Linked DNA regions of Homo sapiens: regions 2, 3, 4, 5 and 6 are each reported to be linked to region 1. Evidence: microRNA targets listed by miRTarBase, many of them from high-throughput screens and not tested one by one. Region 1 holds a microRNA gene; each other region holds the end of a gene's coding sequence.
What was found. Region 1 holds the annotated microRNA hsa-miR-486-5p (UCCUGUACUGAGCUGCCCCGAG, at 1,780-1,801, opposite strand). A microRNA usually pairs through its seed, bases 2 to 8, with sites in the 3' UTR of a target mRNA and lowers its output. Matches are read on the target gene's strand: a 7mer-m8 pairs with bases 2 to 8, a 7mer-A1 pairs with bases 2 to 7 and ends in A, and an 8mer does both.

Region 1 (3,000 bases):
TGCTCTGTCAACCAGGCTGGAGTGCAGTGATGCAATCTCAGCTCACTGCAACCTCCATCCACCAGGTTCAAGTGATTCTCCTGCCACAGCCTCCTGAGTAGCTGGGATTACAGGCACCTGCCACCACACCGGGCTAATTTTTGTATTTTTAGTAGAGACAGGGTTTCACCATGTTGGCCAGGCTGGTCTCAAACTCCTGACCTCAGATGATCTGCACGTCAGCCTCCCAAAGTGCTGAGATTACAGACATGAGCCCCCGAGCCCGGCCTGACCAGCCCTTTCCTCCTTCCCTTCCTTTCCTAGATCATTCGCAAGGTGGTTCGACAGATAGACTTGTCCAGCGCCGATGCCGCCCAGGAGCACGAGGAGGTGACTGTAGAGGGGCCCCTGGAGGATCCCAGTGAGCTGGAGGTCGATATTGATTACTTTATGAAACACTCCAAGGTACTGAGGCGCCCGCGGCCCTGGGGGACCCAGCGCCATCACTGCTGCCTTGCTCTGCCGGGCCGTCTGCATGACACCTCCCTCCACTCACCTCTTTATGAGCTCTCTCTCCAGTCTCTCTTCTCCCTGGTGGGCAGTGTGTCTGCCACCTCCGTGTGGCCTCCTTTCGATCTTCTGCCTGTGTTCTGCCCGTCTTTGCGATCTGTCCTGCTTTCTGTCTCTGCTGCTGTCTGCAGGTGGAGCTGAGAGGGAGTGGCCTACAGCCGGACCTGATAGAGGGCAGGAAGGGGGCGCAGATAGTGAAGCGGGCCAGCCTGAAAAGGGGGAAACAGTGACCCCGAGCCGCTCTCCTTGGAGTAGCCTCTCGGGAGGTAACGCTGCCCTTCTCATCCCCTCTGCATGGCCTGGTCTTCAGTGGAGTGGCTGCTCCCTGTCTCACCCTATCCCCTCCCAGCCACCCCAGCATGATGTGGGACAAACAACTTGTTGTTGTGTCTCGAGGCAGAGATTCTCACTTCCCAACCCTGCTAACAGTTGGCTCTGAACCCCAGCTTCCTCATCAAGGAAACAGAGTTAATAATATCCACTTATCAGGGACCGCACGGTTTTGTAAGAATGCCTTTTGGGCCGGGCACAGTGGCTCATGTCTGTAATCCCAGCATTTTGTGAGGTCGAGGCAAAAGGATTGCTTTAGGCCAGGAGTTCAAGACCAGCCTGGGCAACAGAGCAAGACCCCATCACAAAAAAAAGAAAAAAAAAAGCCAGAAAGAAAAAAATGCTCTTTGAAAAGTAAAAGCACTCTGTAAATCTAAGTGGTAATATTATCTTGGAAACCAAGCAATGGGGATCTAGAAAGCAGTGGACAGGGCATTGAAGAGGACAGGAGAGTTGGTCTGGGCTGTGATGCTTCAACATAAGAGCTCCAAGACTGAGGACTGGACTGTCTCTTGAACCTGGAGCCCAGCTACAGTTCTCACCAGGCCAAGGCTTAGCTTCTCTTTGGTGTTTTGTGAAACACGTTGCTCCCTTGCTTTCTAGGAAAGGGCTGAGCCGACAGGCCTAAGGGGTGGACGACGTGCTTTCTGCAAGTCAGGAGACCGTCAGGGTTGGGGCCGGGGCCTGGGCTGTGGTGCATGTGTGTGAGCATGGGGCAGTGTGGCCACAGAGCAGGGGCATGCCGTGCCGTGCCGTGCCATGAGGAAGGGACATGAAGACGCTGTGCGACCATCTCCAGCAGGTGTGTGTGGTGCTGGGGGCTTCAGCGGCCGGCTCTGATCTCCATCCTCCCTGGGGCATCCTGTACTGAGCTGCCCCGAGGCCCTTCATGCTGCCCAGCTCGGGGCAGCTCAGTACAGGATACCTCGGGGTGGGAGTCAGCAGGAGGTGAGGGGGCATGGTGGCCCCAGTGCAGCACTAACCAGGCCGTTACCATTCACACCCCAGGGCCTGACTCTGGGACCGAGCAGCAAGGAGGCTCTAGCTTTCTGCATTCGGCAAAAATCAGGGCCCGCTGCCTCCTGAGCCACCAAAAGTGCTGACTCTGGGCTTCCCAATATATCTCAGCACTTGGGCAAAAAAGAGGACTGGCAGATCCAGTTATAGGATAAAATTAGACCTGACACCTCAGCAGCTTAAGGAGGTCACCGTGTTAACCCCTGCACTGCCAGGGGTCCCACTAGGCTGCTGGTTTAGAAGACTCTGAGTAGCTGCTGTTGGGTCCTGGAAAGAACCCAAAGATGCAAATAATGTTTAAAAGCAGCAAAGGGAAAGGAAAAGTACACTTTTCTGACTTATTTTTCTTATGGTAGCAGTGGCGGCTGTGGCTTTAAATTTCTCTTTGGCTCAGGCTCTATGGATGCTCCTGAGTGGGAGAGAGGCAGCCCGAAAGCCAGGCTAGGGGGAAGGAGGGAGCCTTGAATTTCATTTTAATTTGCCGTAAGTGATCTGCAATGTGGCTGAAGCCCCCCAACCTCAGGTGATTAAGGACCGGACCACACTAGCATGGGTGTCAGAAACACGGAGCAGCCTGGCTCTGGGACAGCACTTGGCCCTCTGTCAGTGACAGGCACAGGGACAAGTGTGAGGGTGGCAGGGGGGTGGGGCGGTGGGGCGAGAGCAGTGGTGAGGGAGAGGCGGAGAAAAGCTCCTGCCAAAGTCCCAGAGGGTTAGGGGACAGCATTAAATGCCCTACCCTCCCAACCAGGGCAAAGGCTACAGAGAAGACGGTTGAGGGCCCAAAGGCTTCCTAATTTACTATCCGCATCCCCGACAAGCATGTACAGTCGATCCTCATCATTCACGGATTCTGCATTTGCGAATTCGTCCACTCGCTAACATTTATCTGTAGCCCCAAAGCTGGCACTCACCGTGCTTTGGCTCATTCATGGACACACACACAAGGGCAGAAAGTTTGAGTCGCCCAACCCGTGCAATCCCAGCTGAGGATGAACAATGCCACACTCTGCCTCTGTGCCTCATACTATAAATAAGTGTCCTCCTTGCAGCTTGTGTAGTGCCACATTTTTCACATTTTTGGTTTCATTGTTTAGAATGGCC
Region 2 (3,000 bases), not on the chromosome of region 1:
ACAAACACACCAAGGTGTCCCCTGGCCAAGTCAAAATTGGGCCCAGCGTCTTTCTTTCTGTCTTATGACAGACCAGCCTCCAGCCTTGGTGTGGTATCTACATGTAGCCCTGCGTACCCTGCTTCTTTTTAGCATTCAAGGCCCACTCAGGGCCTCAAATTAGCCAATGGTGAATATGGATATAGGACTTTTAGAGGGATGCAGGTTGAGTTGTACATAACTTAGAGGTGAAGTGCAGGTCCGAAACAGGGCTAGACTTTGGAGAACTGTAAAATGGCTCACTGAGCATGACAGCATCAGGACCCCTGGAGTGGCTTTCAAACTTACCTTCTTCTGCAGGCTACTTCTGGAAATCCCTAGGACTTACCAGCTTTCTGAACACTGCGCATCATGGGAGGGTGAAGAGGAAAAGGGGCTAGTTAAAATCTTGCTTCTACTGTGGGCCGAACTCAGGAGGAGCCCTAAAGCTAAGCCCTTGGGCTTGACAGCTCTACTTTTCACCTCTAACTACCACTGTGCCAATGAGTGCCGAGTGCCAAGATCAGCTGTGACACTCGGACCCTAGGTCAAAGTCACAACACCACCACTGAGTCCCACATGACCATTCACATACACAGTAGATACAGAGAACTCAAAGCAGCAAAGACACACACACATGAATAAACAGCTGTTGGTTGAACTCTTGCTCTCTGCATACAAAACACTGTGACATTACCATTTGAACTAGCATTTCCATAAGTTAACATTTAAAGGAACCAGCCAGTCCCATTCACCCTTCCCCTTTCACCTGGGTATAAGACAAATGAAATCGTGGGTGACCACAGCAGCAAAAATGGTCTGACAATGATATGCAATAGGCTGGGCATACTGGTTGAGTTTCAAATATATTTCCAGCACACAGGCAATCCTTAGGCGTTAATATGAAATCAAGATTTGGATCTTGATGCGAACAATCTTATCCTTCACACAGTTTCATTCTATTCCTGATGCCTCCCTTTGAAGAGTAGTTGAGAGTCATCTAGGGCTATGACTACCACTCGGGTAGCAGGACTCATTCCTTTAATAGGATCAGCAGTGAGTTGGGGTACTTGGGAATGGAGCCATCGGGGTTAGGGAAAGAGGAATGCCTTAATTCATAAGATATTCACTAATTTTTACATAAAGGGAAAATACATTTTTCTTCATTTTTTCAAGGCACTTAATAAAAACATAAATTGGTGTGCATGCGTGCGTGCGTGCATGTGTGTATGTGTGTGTGCGTGCATGTGTGTATGCGTGTGTGCATATGTGTAAGAACCTAGGTCTCTCAAGGCTGAAGCAGCATGGTTAAGCATTCTTGTCCACAGTACTTGCGGACTTCTGGTTAGAATCAGTTCTTGTACATCCTAGCTCTGACTCTCCCGAAAGGTTGAAATGGTGTTTGTAACCCAAAGGAGAAGTCGGTGTTTACTAGTCTATTTGAGAGACAAATGCATTTCAAAGGGTCTCTGTCTACACTGCTCAGCCTTGGCCCTCATATGATCACAGAGGTTGGGCTTCTCTTTCCCTCTCCTCTGTTCTCCTTCCCGTCCAGTGGTGACCAGTTACAATAACTCGCTGATGGGGAGAACATACCAATAGTCTCTATTTTTCCCTCTATTTTCCCCTGCCTCTGAGAATATCACACAATGCTGCTTCCAGGGGCTTAGAGACCTGAAGAATATGTGTATGTGTGTATGTATATATGTATATGTTTTAGAAGAACATGGAGGAGGGAAAAGAAAAGGCAAAACCACCACCAGAAGCCCCACAAGGGAAGCCCCACCACCAGACACTGTGGGTCTAGAATTAGCGAATGGCTCCTATTCACTCACAAAGCACTTTAAGCCTCGTCCAGGCGCTTCTATGGATTTTGACGTGTGAAGTTTCCTTTCCAGTTTGTTTTAAATCGCATACAAGAAAGAGCTGTTCATGCTGACCCTAAAATGGCAATTTTCCCCTGGATAAGAAAAGTTAAAGGCAACAACATCCTACTTAAATGCTAGGACTGGAAATGGCAGCTTGTAGGGTTGGCTGGCAGAACCTACACCACAGTAAATCCCTTAAGTCAGAAGACAATCAGAGGATGGGATAAGCTGGACGGCTTTTTTGAGTTTTATTTGTAAAGATGGAAAGGCTGAAAAGACACTTTGCTTTTCAAGTGTTGATTAGAAAGAGAAAGCGGAGAATAATGATCACTGCTCCACTTCTATTCTGGAAAAGTCATTCTCCTCTTCTGCCTCTTTGAGTTGCTCACAGACCAAAGAAATAAAATATAATAATAATAATAATAATAATAATAATACAAACTCACAAACAAAATAGAACTGTGACCCCAAAGAGATGAGCTCCTGTTTTGTCCCAGCAGAGAACACAGCCCCGTTCCTGCAATGACTTAGCCACCGCGGTCCTAGGAGGGTAATCATCCCCTGTGCGGCTGCATCTCCCTTCCTCCTGCGACTCGCTTTTCTGTCCTGTCCATACCTTCGGTATTCTGGATCGGTTTGATCGAGATTATGGCATTCAGTTTCCAAAGGAAAAAAAAATGTAATCTTCCCCAGCCCCTCTTGCTGGAATGAAACGTCAGATAGGATTCAGGTGCAATCCGTCATGCCTCGGAGCAGCACTTTTGGTGGTTCATCTTGACCTTGTGCTTAAGGCCATCGTAGAGCTCGAAGTTGTAGTTCTCCAGTGTGGTGCAGCTTCGGGAGCTCAGGCCCGAGTAGGAACAGGTGCAGTAGAGCAGGAGGCCTGCACAGGTGGCCCCCAGGAGGACGCCCAGTGAGCTCATGGCGATGATGGTGATGAGGATGGGATCCAGGGTGTACAGCCAGCTCTTTTCTTTGTCGGTCGAGGGGGCGCCAGACCCTGAGGTTGCAGAAGAAGAATTGCTCCAGTCCACCTCGTATTCATCTGCGATACATAAAATTCATGAGAGATTGCAGGCACTGCCTATGTCAGGGTGAAGTGACTGAGCCTCCC
Region 3 (3,864 bases), not on the chromosome of region 1:
ATTCCTTTGGTGCTTAGGATATTAAACTATTTGTATCCTGTCATTCCTTTTCTCTAAAAATGCCTTTTTATTTTCTTGTTTGTATAGGGAGCTGTGGTCATGGTGGTGTGGTGAACATCAGCAAACCGTCTGTGGTTCAGCTCAACTGGAGAGGGTTTTCTTATCTATATGGTGCTTGGGGTAGGGATTACTCTCCCCAGCATCCAAACAAAGGACTGTATTGGGTGGCGCCATTGAATACAGATGGGAGACTGTTGGAGTATTATAGACTGTACAACACACTGGATGATTTGCTATTGTATATAAATGCTCGAGAGTTGCGGATCACCTATGGCCAAGGTAGTGGTACAGCAGTTTACAACAACAACATGTACGTCAACATGTACAACACCGGGAATATTGCCAGAGTTAACCTGACCACCAACACGATTGCTGTGACTCAAACTCTCCCTAATGCTGCCTATAATAACCGCTTTTCATATGCTAATGTTGCTTGGCAAGATATTGACTTTGCTGTGGATGAGAATGGATTGTGGGTTATTTATTCAACTGAAGCCAGCACTGGTAACATGGTGATTAGTAAACTCAATGACACCACACTTCAGGTGCTAAACACTTGGTATACCAAGCAGTATAAACCATCTGCTTCTAACGCCTTCATGGTATGTGGGGTTCTGTATGCCACCCGTACTATGAACACCAGAACAGAAGAGATTTTTTACTATTATGACACAAACACAGGGAAAGAGGGCAAACTAGACATTGTAATGCATAAGATGCAGGAAAAAGTGCAGAGCATTAACTATAACCCTTTTGACCAGAAACTTTATGTCTATAACGATGGTTACCTTCTGAATTATGATCTTTCTGTCTTGCAGAAGCCCCAGTAAGCTGTTTAGGAGTTAGGGTGAAAGAGAAAATGTTTGTTGAAAAAATAGTCTTCTCCACTTACTTAGATATCTGCAGGGGTGTCTAAAAGTGTGTTCATTTTGCAGCAATGTTTAGGTGCATAGTTCTACCACACTAGAGATCTAGGACATTTGTCTTGATTTGGTGAGTTCTCTTGGGAATCATCTGCCTCTTCAGGCGCATTTTGCAATAAAGTCTGTCTAGGGTGGGATTGTCAGAGGTCTAGGGGCACTGTGGGCCTAGTGAAGCCTACTGTGAGGAGGCTTCACTAGAAGCCTTAAATTAGGAATTAAGGAACTTAAAACTCAGTATGGCGTCTAGGGATTCTTTGTACAGGAAATATTGCCCAATGACTAGTCCTCATCCATGTAGCACCACTAATTCTTCCATGCCTGGAAGAAACCTGGGGACTTAGTTAGGTAGATTAATATCTGGAGCTCCTCGAGGGACCAAATCTCCAACTTTTTTTTCCCCTCACTAGCACCTGGAATGATGCTTTGTATGTGGCAGATAAGTAAATTTGGCATGCTTATATATTCTACATCTGTAAAGTGCTGAGTTTTATGGAGAGAGGCCTTTTTATGCATTAAATTGTACATGGCAAATAAATCCCAGAAGGATCTGTAGATGAGGCACCTGCTTTTTCTTTTCTCTCATTGTCCACCTTACTAAAAGTCAGTAGAATCTTCTACCTCATAACTTCCTTCCAAAGGCAGCTCAGAAGATTAGAACCAGACTTACTAACCAATTCCACCCCCCACCAACCCCCTTCTACTGCCTACTTTAAAAAAATTAATAGTTTTCTATGGAACTGATCTAAGATTAGAAAAATTAATTTTCTTTAATTTCATTATGAACTTTTATTTACATGACTCTAAGACTATAAGAAAATCTGATGGCAGTGACAAAGTGCTAGCATTTATTGTTATCTAATAAAGACCTTGGAGCATATGTGCAACTTATGAGTGTATCAGTTGTTGCATGTAATTTTTGCCTTTGTTTAAGCCTGGAACTTGTAAGAAAATGAAAATTTAATTTTTTTTTCTAGGACGAGCTATAGAAAAGCTATTGAGAGTATCTAGTTAATCAGTGCAGTAGTTGGAAACCTTGCTGGTGTATGTGATGTGCTTCTGTGCTTTTGAATGACTTTATCATCTAGTCTTTGTCTATTTTTCCTTTGATGTTCAAGTCCTAGTCTATAGGATTGGCAGTTTAAATGCTTTACTCCCCCTTTTAAAATAAATGATTAAAATGTGCTTTGAAAAAAGTCATCTTTTGTTTTATTTAATTTTAATTTTTTTTTAAAGCTCTTAACAGGGTAGTCCATATCTTGCTATGAGGTTGGGAGAATGGCTACCTCCCAAACACTAGTGCGGGGAGATTGCACACCTAACAACAGATCACATCAATAACTTTTATAAGAGCCCAGAGTTAGGCTGGCTCTTTCATTTTTCTTTCCCTTTAAAATCCACTCTTTCTGGCAGCTTTTATTGTACATGACTGCCCTATTATCTTTTGGGATATGACCTTATGTACTTATTAATTTGCATGACTGATCTGATTATTTCCAATGCTAGACTACATTTATGTAGCTTATGTTCCTTTTCCAATTGAGCTATGAACATGGATCAGAAGCCTCTGGATCTTCCCCAGACAGGAGGACTTGGGCAGAAAGCAAAAGGACTAACTGGCTATACCAGGAAGAGAAGTACCTTTACCAAAGAGAATATGTAAGAAGACAGGTGACCTAGAGCTGGAAGGACACAGTGGACTGATGTAGTTAGTCTTACTGAAATGCTCATTTTGGATCCTTGCCAAACTTTTTGAGACAGATGGCAGCTATAATATTTAGTATTTTAGTAAGATTTTTCCCTATCTCTTCAGGGCTGAGTGTAGAGACAGGTATGCCCTTCAAAATGCAACAAGATATGAAGATAAAGACATGTATGTCATGTGAGATACAAGTTAAAAACCAGGATGTTATATTTAATCTGGCTCTAGGCAGTTTTCCAGATCAATGTTTTGTACCAAGTACACAGTATGACCTCTGAAGATTCAGGAAAGGAGGCAGGAAGCCAAGGTAACCCTAGCAATCAGCTTCTTATTTGAACTGCTACAGAAGCATTTGCCTGAAAAAATTCACTTCCCAGCCTCTTTCTCACTGGACGTGGTGTATCAGCCTGCAGTGGCTGCCTGCAGGAAATCTCCCTGCAGGGAAGGTTGAAGGACTCAGGGATTCAGGCTCCTGGGTTTACCGCAGTGCAGTTACACAATGGGAAATTTAGCTCCAGATTCATCAGCTACTGCCTGTTTTGAAATTTACATATATATATTATAAACATAAATTACATAAGGTATAATTCACATGTGGTAAAACTTGCCAGTTTTAAGTGCACAATTCAATGAGTTTTGACAAGTGTATAGTCATGTAAAGGCTACCACAATTAGGACATAAAACACTTCCATCCTCCCTGAAATGTTCTCTTGTGTTTTTTTTATAGACAACTCTTACCCCCACCCTCCAGTCTCTGGCCACCACTGATCTGTTTCCTATACCTACGGCTTTGCTTTTTCCCCAAAGTCATGGACATGGAATTATATAGTGAATAGGCTTTTGAATCTGCCTTCTTCAACAAGGGAATTAGTCGGTTCAAATTACCCCAGAGGAGAACTGGGCATTACTAATGCTCTTGGGGTTCCCTGCATTGTTTACTATCTTTCCTGGGGTTGGATAGGGGATTACGGAGAGCTGTGGTGACCTACTGCCCTTATAAGTGTTCCTGAGTGGCCTCTAGGGCCATGGGAGGGGTCTAAATCTGTGTACCAATCAAACCTACCAGGCAGCGCTCCCAAAGCATGAGGGTTTCTTGTTACCAGGCTTGTTGAAGGTTTGTTCTCCAATCTTTACTCCTGTACCACAAGCATCCCTACCCAGGTGAGACTGTATATTAATTA
Region 4 (3,848 bases), not on the chromosome of region 1:
GACACTAACTAGTATGTGCCTGTTTCAGTGAAGATACTGTGTTTTGTTATACCATGATGTTTCATTCAAGGAAAATTAAAGTCCCAGGATGCTTTACGAAAACAAACTTCCTGTTAGCAATGCAGTAAGTACTCTTGGCTATGCTGGTACCTAATGATTTACCCAACTTAGGTAAAGAAGTTACCCAGCTAAAGTATGTCTAGGTCTTGTCAGCGCAAGTAGTTGACAACCAAGTCCTTACTGTCCACTAGACCTACGTCTTGATTCCAGAGAGAAAGAAGATTCTCCAAGACTGGGGAATGACATTCCGGGAGTGCCAGTACCACCTCTGCCTCCATATTGCCAGGAACAGACTGAAGATGGCCTTCTCTCAGGGTTGAGACCAGGAAGGGCCATCCTGGGATGCATGGCACATGCCAGCTCTTGGGGACCAGAGTCCATTCCCATCATGCAGAGGCGGCATCAGCTACGGAAAAGAATCTTCAAAGTGGAGGGACAAGCCTGGCATCCCTGTACAAGTTCCTCTGGATTCCTCATAGTTTCCTCCTTGCAGTACGCACAAAGGCACCCAGTAAATGAACGTTAGACCCTGGAACACTTCATTCTTCATAGAGGAGAGGGACATGCCTAAGTTAGTGAAGCAAATATGCGGTAAGTTCCCCGATGGTTCTGACTTGCCTGTTCAGCACAGGCTGTGCAGTCCCTTCTCTTCATTTTAAATCATTCATGAGGCAAGAACAATCTAGGTTAATCCAAATTAACATGGCCCAACATTGTTCCCTTCCTGGCTGAGCCAATTACTCCCACACGTACTACATTTTCTGCTGCATATACAACTTCAAACTACAGCTCAAGTTTTTTTCTTCAGTATGGTAAAATTCAATGTCATGAACCATGGCTAGGTTAAAATTCTGATTTAAACATTTTGGTGACTATATTTCTAACACTTTTTAGTTGCTTCAACACCTAATGGAGTTATAAAAAAGAAAAATAAATATATATAGCTCAGATTTTAATTCTCCTACTCTGCAACTCCAAATAAATTCAGAAAAATGTCTCAGTTTCATTTATTCAAAAAATGGCAATTTGTAGTAATAAATGCTAATCTGGGAGGCTGATTTGATTGTTCTAATTACCAAAAAGCTTAGCATTTTTTTTATTAGAAGAAGGGGAAGTGGGGAAGACAGTGAATATATAAAATATTACTTCCACCAAGCATATTTTTCTGCAATAAATGCATGGCATTTAATCAGTAACTATATAAATGTCCTCCATGGTTCACTGAATCTTTTACCACTCCATCACCATCACCGGCCCCCAAGCTATTTTGTATATGCGAGGACACGCGGGTAATTACCTGGACATTCCCCTTCTTTTTCCTTATGTAAAACAGTTGCCTGGTGGTTACTGTGTTTACAGATTTCTTGTATGCTGTGCTTTCAAGCATTAAGAATTCAAATTTATCTCACTATAGAAACAAGAACCCAAAGTGCCAAAAAATGATCATAAATACCAGTTGAACCCAACGGGTATAATACTTACATAATCCTCACTTTCACCACTTTTTCTTTCCCAATGAGGTAAGAGACAGACTATAGGCTACTCCCAAAATACTCAAAGATTTTTTTCCCTTTTTTATTTAACCATGTGTAATGTAACCCGTAAGAATGGAACCAGGTTCGTCTGAATCCATTGTGTCATTAATGTCCCTTTGAGAATCAATTCCATTACACTGGCCTTCACACATTCCACAGGACATTTCCTATGTCGGAGTTTTCTAAACTATGAAATTGTTATTCATTACTCTGTGAGTTTTGGAGAATCAAGACATGGAAGAGACATCCCATCAGTCTGTGCATACCTATGCATCGTGACATTAAATTGTCACCGGGTATGTACCCAAACCATTAAATGGGACCTTGCCTCAGAGATCATAAAGGCTACACCCTTTTGTAAGTAAAGCAAGGAAGGTCTGGGAAGGTTGGAAGTGACTTAAAACCCATCCAAGTCACTAGTGGCAAAATCAGGACCGAAATCCGGTCACCATAAAGGCCGGCTCCATGCTTGCTTCCGCATCACTGCTGTCTCATAGCACAATTCTCAGGTGGCCTTTCCTGGCTCTACCATGAATATGATAAAAATAAAAATAGGGGATGGGATAGAACAGAATAACCATTAGTGGTGCCACAATTTACAAACACAGGTTTCTATAAGATCCTGTCATTCATTTTTTCCCCAGCCTTCAAGATCAAATCTATTTATTGTCTTTTAACGTGTTTTATTCAAAATCTTTCTTCTTCTTAATTAGTTACATTTTCAGAGGGTGCATATGCATAGATGCAGTAAGTTTTCAGTTTAACTTCTTCTGAGATAGTTTACTGACATTGCCCTAGCTATTTTTTTCAACAAATAATGTTGGCATTTTTTTTTTTTTAAATAGAGGTGGGGTCTCACTATCTTACTCAGGCTGGTCCTCAACTCTTGGGCTCAAGCCATCCACCTGCCTCGGCCTCCAAAAGTGCTGGGATTACAGGCGTGATCCACCGTCCCTGGTCTATTTTTTTACTTCTATCCAAATATATTCAGAAAAATGGCCAATACAGTGCTCTGTTCTCTGATAAAGTAGTTATTGAAGGGGACTAGAAAAGTAAAACAAACAGAACAAAAAACCCAATAGTCTTTATTACTTCTTTTTAATTGTTTAACTTTATTACTGTTGCACCATTTATACAATTACATATAATTTCAATGCATCCATTGTACATTTTTTTGTTTTTTTTTTGTTTTTTTTTTCCATTTTCCAATGAGTGGTGTGTTGGTGTCTGTGACACAGAATGGAAGAGAAACTGGAACTGCAATGAACGCAGACTTTTTTTTTTTTTTTTTTTCATTTCCACTGACCAATAAACAGAACTACAGGTGCACCCAACCACGGACATGCATTAACTCGTCATGAGAAATCTAGGTAGGCTAAGTAGGATGAGAGAATGTTTGTCACTCCCAAAAATATCTGGAGAGGAAGAATGGAGGATTGGCATTGAGATCCATGTGGACAAGCTAAGTGGGCTCTGTCTGAAAGCTGGCATTCATCCACAACATTAAAAAAATATCAAAATAAGAAAGGCTGTAAATTAAAAAGAAAACACAGAAAATACTGCTCTCATAAAGATCTGATTGCCTTGGCACAGGCCCTGTGGGCAGAATCAAACGCATCACTCCCAACTCCCATTGCAGAAGAAAAGCTATTCAACTCTCAGCGGTGGAGGAGTGCATGTGGCGGCAGTTTCAGGTACAAACGATGTACTGCACTTTCAGACGCGGATCTTGGAAATCCAGGACTTCTTGGTAAAGTTGACTGAAGGTATATTAGATATTTCCCCACAAAAATACTATTTGGATTCTCCCACCCCCTCCCTCCCTTGATGGGACAACATCCTGTATTTTTCCTTGGGCAATACATATCATTACTTCCAATTTGAAACAAGTTAGTATAGGAGAGAGAGAGAGGAGAGATAGGAGAGGAGAGAGAGAGAGGAGATAGAGAGAGAGATAGAGAGAGAGAGAGAGAGAGAGAGAGGAGATTGTTTTAAGTGGTATTGTTTTTCCTATAGGCTGTCCTTGTCACTCTTTCACGGTTACGGTTTGGTCGGAATTAGCTGCCGGGGCCTCCACCGGCTTGGGCTCTTCTGCAGAGGCTGCGGGGCCCTGGGCCTTGGGTGTGGAACTAGGCGCTTCCGTGGCTGCGGGGGTCTCCTTGGAAGAGGGGGCAGCCTCCGAGCTGCCGGGTTTTGAGTCTGAAGCTGGGGCCCCGTCACTTTTGGTCTCCTGGGCGGCAGGAGCTGCGGGCG
Region 5 (3,864 bases), not on the chromosome of region 1:
TGTCAAACACCTATGGTAGTAATTTTTCCAAAGCTAGTTGAGAGAGCATACTCTGGTTTTTCATCTCTCACAGTAGTCAAAGAAGTTACATATACAATTAGAATTTGTTGTTTCTGTTGCCAGAAACTCAATACAATTTGTCACATCAGGAAAGGTTTTTTGTTGTTATTGTTGTTGTTTTTGAGACGGAATTTCACTTCACTCTTGTTGCCCAGGCTGGAGTGCAATGGCGCGATCTCGGCTCACCACAACCCCCACCTCCCAGGTTCAAGCGATTCTCCTGCCTCAGCCTCCCAAGTAGCTGGAATTACAGGCTTTGTCACTACGCCTGGCTAATTTTGTATTTTTAGTAGAGATGGGGTTTCTCCATGTTGGTCCTGCTGGTGTCGAACTCCCAACCTCAGGTGATCCGCCTGCCTCAGCCTCCCAAAGTGCTGCGATTACAGGCGTGAGCCACTGCACCTGGCCCAGGAAAAGTTTTTTACATACGAATTAAAGATGCTTCTTTATGCAAATTTTTAAACCCCAGGTTTGAAGTAGGATAAAAGGTAACATTAAATCTGAGATCATTTCTAGCTCTGGAATTCTGTGATTGTAATGAGTTTTGATTTCTAAATGTTTTTTCCTTTCATAATTTCAGGGTTAGTCAGCAACATAAAATCAACCTAATGACAGCAGACAACTTATCCATCTGTTTTTGGCCAACCTTGATGAGACCTGATTTTGAAAATCGAGAGTTTCTGTCTACTACTAAGATTCATCAATCTGTTGTTGAAACATTCATTCAGCAGTGTCAGTTTTTCTTTTACAATGGAGAAATTGTAGAAACGACAAACATTGTGGCTCCTCCACCACCTTCAAACCCAGGACAGTTGGTGGAACCAATGGTGCCACTTCAGTTGCCGCCACCATTGCAACCTCAGCTGATACAACCACAATTACAAACGGATCCTCTTGGTATTATATGAGTAGGAAGTGATTGCAAACAGGCTGGATTTGGACAAAAAGCAAATCTAGACATGCATGTTTCAGGGTTCAGTAGTATACTTCATGTTTCATACAGATAATTCACATTCAAAATTACATTTTCTCTTTGAACTAGATGGTATTCCTTATTCACTTACATTACAAATCTAAGACCATGTGATAAGCATGACTGGAGAGGTTTAATTTTTATAAACAAAAATAGCTATAAAGTACAAAGCTGCTGCTGCATGCAACCTTATTGCAATCAGTATATCATTCCTGTGGCAATTTCTGTCACCTTATATTGTGAATAAAATTTTTCTATAGAAATTAAATGATTTAAAAACTCACCTATATGAAACATTTAATGCTTTTCAGCCTGCTTTCTGGCTGATTTTGTTATTTGATGTGCTAATTTGGGCAACTTAATTTACATTCTGGCAGTCGGTGTAGATAACTAAAAGCCCAGTTAAGTATTTTATAATTTCAGGCTACTGAGGCCATGCTTGGGATGTTGTTTGAAAGAAAGAAAAAATACACTTGACATATTTCACATTTCTGTACCTTCATCTTTACTTCCAAGTAAACCCGTGGATGATTTGATGAGGGATAAATGAACCTATTTCTTTTACACACATACCAAGGACATGCTTGTGGCTAAAGTGAGTTGATAATGTTGTGCAAAGGATAGTTGTCACCAACTCATTTCTTTATGGTCCATAATGAAATAAAAATTTTGTATACTGTTAATTCTGTAAACAGATGCATGTTCAAAAGATCTATGATGGTCTTGTAATCTTAATCTAATATATTTTAGATATTTTAATTTTTTCCCTCTTGGGGAACACATTTAGTATAGTGTAGAAAATACTTCCATGACATTTTCATATAAGGTTATATAACTTTTCATACATAAACATGAAATTTGTTGTAGAAAATTCTTTAAACCAAACATTTAAATCTAGGACTTCAATTTAATTTGTTCCTTGAATCTATTTTTATGTGGCCCTTAAAAAATATCCAAAAAACCCATTGCTAATATAGCAATAAAAATACTTTGGGTACTGACAGACTCTTTGGAGTGTTTATATTACAAATTTGTATTCATATTCTTTTCTGTGATGTGTTGTACTAAAATCCAAAATGGCTTTTGCACCATTTTTAAGCCAATTTTTTCCTTTGATGTTGGTACCAGAATTACTATAAGTGACTGCTGCTTTTGGGGGTAAACATTTTGTTAGTGAAGATAAAACCAGAACACTAAATTATGGATAAAATTTTCAGAATAGGTGGCACAGGTAAATTTCACTAGGTTATATTTTGTGTAGTAAAGAAAAAAATTATTTGGTCAATGTTATCTTAATTCATACTACAATTTAAGATTATCTTATGTGTATTATAGTAAATAGATGATTTTCAGATTCAAGGCTCCTAAGAGTTTGATTTGCTCTGTTTTTTCCTAAAATAAATATTGTCTCTCCCAACTGTTAAGTTCTAGGTATTGTACTTCCAATTTTAACTTCAGAACCAAGATGTTGGCATGAACCAGGCTGCTGTTGAAGTACATGTATATTATAAATTATCTTATTTGTGTTATACTCTTACATGTTATCTTTTCTAAGAAAACAAAGTCCCTATTATTCCTATTGCAAAGCACACAGGAATTAAGAAAGTACAGTAATTTTTAAAAAAAAATCCGGTAAATGTAGTATTCTTAACCTGTTCTATATTACTTATACCTATTGTCTATATAGCTTTAATTTATAGTTGTCAGTTTAACTATTGGCATGTCTGGCAAAGAAAATTAAACTTTAAGAGTTTTATAAACTGTTTCTAGGTTGCTAAAGAATTTATTTTTCTACTATATATGGTATAGACAAAGCATCAAACTATGTACAGGAAAAAAGCCTGACTATTTCTATTTGGAAGTAGGCTGAAAAGAGAATTTTCAAAACTGTTCGTGTCTTCAGTTCATTCTGTCATAACTTTGCTATTGTAATATGTGAATACCAGTTTATTTAAGCTGTTCTCTTTTATACTGTATTAATTTAATGTTCATCTGCGTTTAGTACCATTTTTGTTATTAAAACTGGCATTTACCGTTTTTCACATTAACCCACCTTGCACCTTCCCCCAAACTTATCTCCACTTTTCTATGCATTCTATCATTGATTTGACACACTTCATAGTGAGTCATTTAAATACTCTACGTTTGGTTCAATTAACCAGTAGGTTACAGTTATTGAAAATTAAAGTACAGTTTAAAGCTCAGTCTGTTACACTGAATTGATTGTGTTTGTTTTTGCCAAGGGTTTAGATATGCTTTTAAATATTAGAAACATCTAAGAACAGAATAACATAATTAAACTTTTTTCTGGTAAGTTACTGGAAGGTTTCACTGTTTAGGGACCTATCATATGAGACTTCTTAAAGGATTAAAAGAATAGGATAGTCTCATAATTGTGAGTAAACATCAAGGCATTATATTTTACAATACTGAATAAAATTTCATCTACACACATGTTGCCATTGTTTCATTTAAGGTTCAGTGCTTATAGTTAACTACAATATTGGACCTAACAGGATCTAGATTAGCAATATAAAGAAGCATAGTGGTACTCTGTTTCACACTTTCAGTAGATTTATTAGAAGTCAAATTCTATTCAACAGACACTTATTAGGATATACAACTAATTTAAGAATAAAATTCCAGGCACAATATATTTTTTTTAAATGGTATTTGTTAGTAGTGCTTCTTCCCCTTAACATTTACAGTGTAAATACTGCAGGTAACCGCAATCTAAGTTAGCCAAAAAGCAGCTTTTTTTCCCATACTGTATGTAAATAATGTAGACCTGGGTTTTTTTGTTTATTTGGGTTTGTTTTTTTTTTTGAGGT
Region 6 (3,864 bases), not on the chromosome of region 1:
TAGGAGCCGCTCTGTTTATTGGATGGGCAGGAGCCTCACTGTGCATAATTGGTGGTGTCATATTTTGCTTTTCAATATCTGACAACAACAAAACACCCAGGTATGAAAAAGAGACAAAAATGACCTGTTAAAAAGTAGAATGCTATCATAAATCATTACATGTGGAACAAATTACAGATAGTTCATATGATTCTTAGAAACTTCCAAAATCCGGAATTGGAAAAGGTTAGCAGTACAGTTAATTTTTTAAAGTTTTACCATTACTATATTCCAAAGAAAATTCTAACGTAGAAATAAGGGTCTGAATATGAGGACATGTTCTTCACGTTGGCCTCATCATAATTTTCCTCTAGGTAGGCAGGAATGTTGATGGCCTCTACTAAGTCTCCTAGCTTCCAGGAGGGTGAGTTTTAAAACATGGTTTTGTAAGAGGATAACTGAACAAATGACCAAGTCATGAGTTTCTTCTGCAGAGATTCTCCATCCCACTCAGAAATGACACTGAAAATACTTCTTGGGGCAAGAGGAGAGAAGAAAGCTATCTAAGAAAGAGGAAGATTTACATTTAGATATTGGCAGAGACAGGCCGAAACAGTTTCTTCCCATTTTTGTTTGCCCTATGTGTAGAATAGAATCTACCAAACTATGTTTTACCTTTCAGATACACATACAACGGGGCCACATCTGTCATGTCTTCTCGGACAAAGTATCATGGTGGAGAAGATTTTAAAACAACAAACCCTTCAAAACAGTTTGATAAAAATGCTTATGTCTAAAAGAGCTCGCTGGCAAGCTGCCTCTTGAGTTTGTTATAAAAGCGAACTGTTCACAAAATGATCCCATCAAGGCCCTCCCATAATTAACACTCAAAACTATTTTTAAAATATGCATTTGAAGCATCTGTTGATTGTATGGATGTAAGTGTTCTTACATAGTTAGTTATATACTAATCATTTTCTGTTGTGGCTTTCTATAAAAAATAAACAGTTTATTTACAGGATTTGTAAAATGTTTTCTACATTTATATAGAACATGAAAAGCATTTAGTACCAAAGGTTCAAGAAGTATTCGTACTCTAGCCTTTTTAATCATTCATAGATAGAAGTCTTTGTACCCACTCCTTATGTTTCTTTTCATTCATAAACAGGTGTATAAGGAACAATGTCTTATAAACAGCATGGGGGCAATCTGAGAATATTCCTCAAAAGGTGTCCAGGTTAAATAGACATGTTACTGGCTGCACACAGGCAAATTCTAGTTTGTTTTTTTTAAGTATTCTACAACATTTATTTAAAAAGGTAAATCTTTTTGTTGAAGCAGCAAGTTATCTGGTAGAACTTAACTTCTACAGGATCAGAGAGGATCTTGCTCATTCATGGCCATATCCACATGCCCATGGCCACTCAGTAGATTGTTGAAAAAGCAAAGCCACACCATTCTCTTTGATGTATGCAGAGAGTTACGTAGCAGGGGATGTTCTCTGATTTATTCCACTGGCACCATTAGTGAATATTTAGTTGTTTTCATAAACGATGCTGTGATGAAGACTCATGTACATATTTAGCAAATTTTGGTTTCTTACATGTGCCTGTCATGACTGTAATTCATTATGACTGCTCCAGGAAGGGCTAATGGGGCCAATATATTATTGCCTGTCATGTGGCACATCCATGTTAAGGGGCTGAGGCGTCCCTGGCACGGAATGCAGAGCCCTGAGCTAGGGCATCAGCAGAAGCTGAGATAGAGATATTGGTCATGGTTGACTGAGGAGCCAATTAAAACCTGTTTATGCCTAGTGTTCCATTATTGGAACACTAAGCATGTGGGAGTTATTTATATCCTACTGCTCAAGGTCATCGCCAAGGTGTGATTGGAAAAATTCAAAAAATTGCAACCTCAGGCATAAATGGGTTAAGGACATCCCAAGCCCAAGTGGTACGTGCCTCACTCAGAACTGACGGGCCGAGTTCTATCTAGGTGTGTCTTCCAGAACCTGTTTACGGCTAACTGGATAACTGAGAGACTTGTCATTTCTAAAGACATTTAAGTTGCTCCAGGGATTTCTGAAAAAAGACACAGGCTTCTTCCTAGAGCCAGCCCTATATAACATGCCCACAAGGGCAACAGTTATCACAGTTCATACACACCTTTCATGTCCTGTCTCACTCACTCCTCACAGCCATCCTAGGAGATACATATTGTTTTCATCCTGCATTTACAGAAAAAGAAATGAAAACAGAGAGCTTAAATAATTTGCCACAGTAATGTCGAAACTAGGCCTTTGAACCAAGGCAGTCTAGGGTAAAATATAGTTTCAAAGTATGAATAAGAATTGGTATTTGTGTTATCTTTGAGTAAGAAACTGTCCGATATGAATCACAACGTGGGTGAATGTAGTATTTTCCTGAAGTGTGAAAGACTTAAAAAAAAGAATCACATTGTTCAGAGGTGCTCAATGGAAAGAAAAGGAAATGAACAAGTTTGTTAAAAGATAAAAAATAAAAAAAATTCCATACCTTGATAATCCTTGAAATATCTTTTGCAGAAATACAAATCAACTGAAAGACATGAAGGTAGATTAGGTCCTACAGGCCAGTGTGGGACAGGGTTGTGTAGGTGTGCATTTCAAACACATTTATTATTCAGAAGTGGTGCAGATAACGCTTAGATTACACCGAAGAATTTAGGGAGGGTGGGGGATGAAGGTCTGTTAGTAACCAGAAACACATTAGTTGGGCATCAGTAAGGGGCAACATAAAGGAATGGTTCCCCTCAAAAACGAACAAACCAAATTTTATACAAAAAAATGAAATGCAGCAGGGCGCGATGGCTCACGCCTATAATCCCAGCACTTTGGGAGGACAAGACAGCGGATCATTTGAGGTCAGGAGTTCGAGACCAGTCTGGCCAACATGGTGAAACCTCATCTCTACTAAAAATACAAAAAATTAAGCCAGGCATGGTGGTGGGCACCTGTAATCCCAGCTACTTGGGAGGCTGAGGCAGGAAAATCGCTTGAATCTGGGAGGCGGAGGTTGTAGTGAGCCGAGATGGTGCCACTGCGCTCAAGCCTGGGCAACATAGTGAGACTCTGTCTCAAAAAAAAAAAAAAAAAAAGATACAACTAACCATGTAAGCTAAAGGAGGGGCTCTTAAAAGACACAGATATAGTGACTTAATTTAAATACTGGGTTTACTTAGCAAAAGTTCATTTCCCCAAGCTCTTCTGCTCAGGAATGAAAACATGGCAGACACAAAACATGGAATAGAGACCTGGCTTAAAGTCTCCCCTTGACACTTTGTACTTGTATGGCTTCTGGCAACTTACTTAATAACTCTGTTTCTCACACCTTTAGGATGAGGATTATAACAATAACTACATCGCAAAGTTGTTGTAATTAAATGAATTAGTGCGTGTTCAAAACCAAACCAGACCAAGTGGTTCAATAAATATCTGCTGAATAAATAAATGAATGAACAAAGTGGCACATGGGCCATCTTAGGCTTGGTGTAGTTTTGTAGATTGCCGTTCTCTGTCCTACCACATGAAACTTGGATTCGGCCTTCTGTTCTCTGTCCTACTACATGAAACTTGGATTCAGCCTTCACTAAAGCTTTTAGAAACATACATATAAAGTGAGTATATCTGCATGAAATGGCCCCTATAGGAAGTTGGAAGGATTCTTTTAGAGGGCAGGAATGGGCTACAAGTAAAAAGGATCCCAGGGTGGGTGGAAACAGATAAAGATTTGTTCTAACCATTAGGACAGAATGTCATATGGCATAGCAATCAAGGCCAGATTCTCCCTCTGTAAGACCCCTAATAAGTACAAATTTAACTCAGAATTCATCTCTAATAACACA

Region 2: miRTarBase lists NRP2 as a target of hsa-miR-486-5p. The part of its 3' UTR that is shown has no 7-base or 8-base seed match.
Region 3: miRTarBase lists OLFM4 as a target of hsa-miR-486-5p. Seed matches in the 3' UTR shown: 8mer at 1,240-1,247.
Region 4: miRTarBase lists BASP1 as a target of hsa-miR-486-5p. Seed matches in the 3' UTR shown: 7mer-A1 at 3,434-3,440.
Region 5: the mRNA of ARHGAP5 is a reported target of hsa-miR-486-5p. Seed matches in the 3' UTR shown: 8mer at 2,860-2,867.
Region 6: the mRNA of CLDN10 is a reported target of hsa-miR-486-5p. Seed matches in the 3' UTR shown: 7mer-A1 at 994-1,000 and 7mer-A1 at 1,347-1,353.

Annotation. Positions count from the first base shown.
Region 1 is chr8:41,659,245-41,662,244 of GRCh38, reverse strand. It overlaps MIR486-2 (microRNA 486-2), which reads right to left and starts at 1,801; the gene lies at 1,738-1,801. It overlaps ANK1 (ankyrin 1), which reads left to right. Exons shown (of 43, transcript NM_000037.4): 41 at 304-369; 42 at 681-815. The coding sequence ends at 779. It overlaps MIR486-1 (microRNA 486-1), which reads left to right and starts at 1,737; the gene lies at 1,737-1,804.
Region 2 is chr2:205,794,685-205,797,684 of GRCh38, reverse strand. NRP2 (neuropilin 2) reads right to left here. Exons shown (of 17, transcript NM_003872.3): 17 at 1-2,931. The coding sequence ends at 2,627. Among named protein-coding and RNA genes, the nearest start is that of NRP2, 110 kb to the right of the region's middle. RefSeq lists an enhancer at 619-1,120.
Region 3 is chr13:53,049,882-53,053,745 of GRCh38, forward strand. It overlaps OLFM4 (olfactomedin 4), which reads left to right. Exons shown (of 5, transcript NM_006418.5): 5 at 88-2,176. The coding sequence ends at 890. Among named protein-coding and RNA genes, the nearest start is that of OLFM4, 23 kb to the left of the region's middle.
Region 4 is chr5:17,275,674-17,279,521 of GRCh38, reverse strand. It overlaps BASP1 (brain abundant membrane attached signal protein 1), which reads right to left. Exons shown (of 2, transcript NM_006317.5): 2 at 2,688-3,848. The coding sequence ends at 3,622. Among named protein-coding and RNA genes, the nearest start is that of BASP1, 60 kb to the right of the region's middle. RefSeq lists an enhancer at 3,388-3,848.
Region 5 is chr14:32,153,981-32,157,844 of GRCh38, forward strand. It overlaps ARHGAP5 (Rho GTPase activating protein 5), which reads left to right. Exons shown (of 7, transcript NM_001030055.2): 7 at 641-3,864. The coding sequence ends at 968. Among named protein-coding and RNA genes, the nearest start is that of RNU6-7, 46 kb to the right of the region's middle.
Region 6 is chr13:95,577,239-95,581,102 of GRCh38, forward strand. It overlaps CLDN10 (claudin 10), which reads left to right. Exons shown (of 5, transcript NM_006984.5): 4 at 1-100; 5 at 662-2,521. The coding sequence ends at 776. It overlaps DZIP1 (DAZ interacting zinc finger protein 1), which reads right to left. Exons shown (of 23, transcript NM_198968.4): 23 at 964-3,864. Among named protein-coding and RNA genes, the nearest start is that of CLDN10, 26 kb to the left of the region's middle.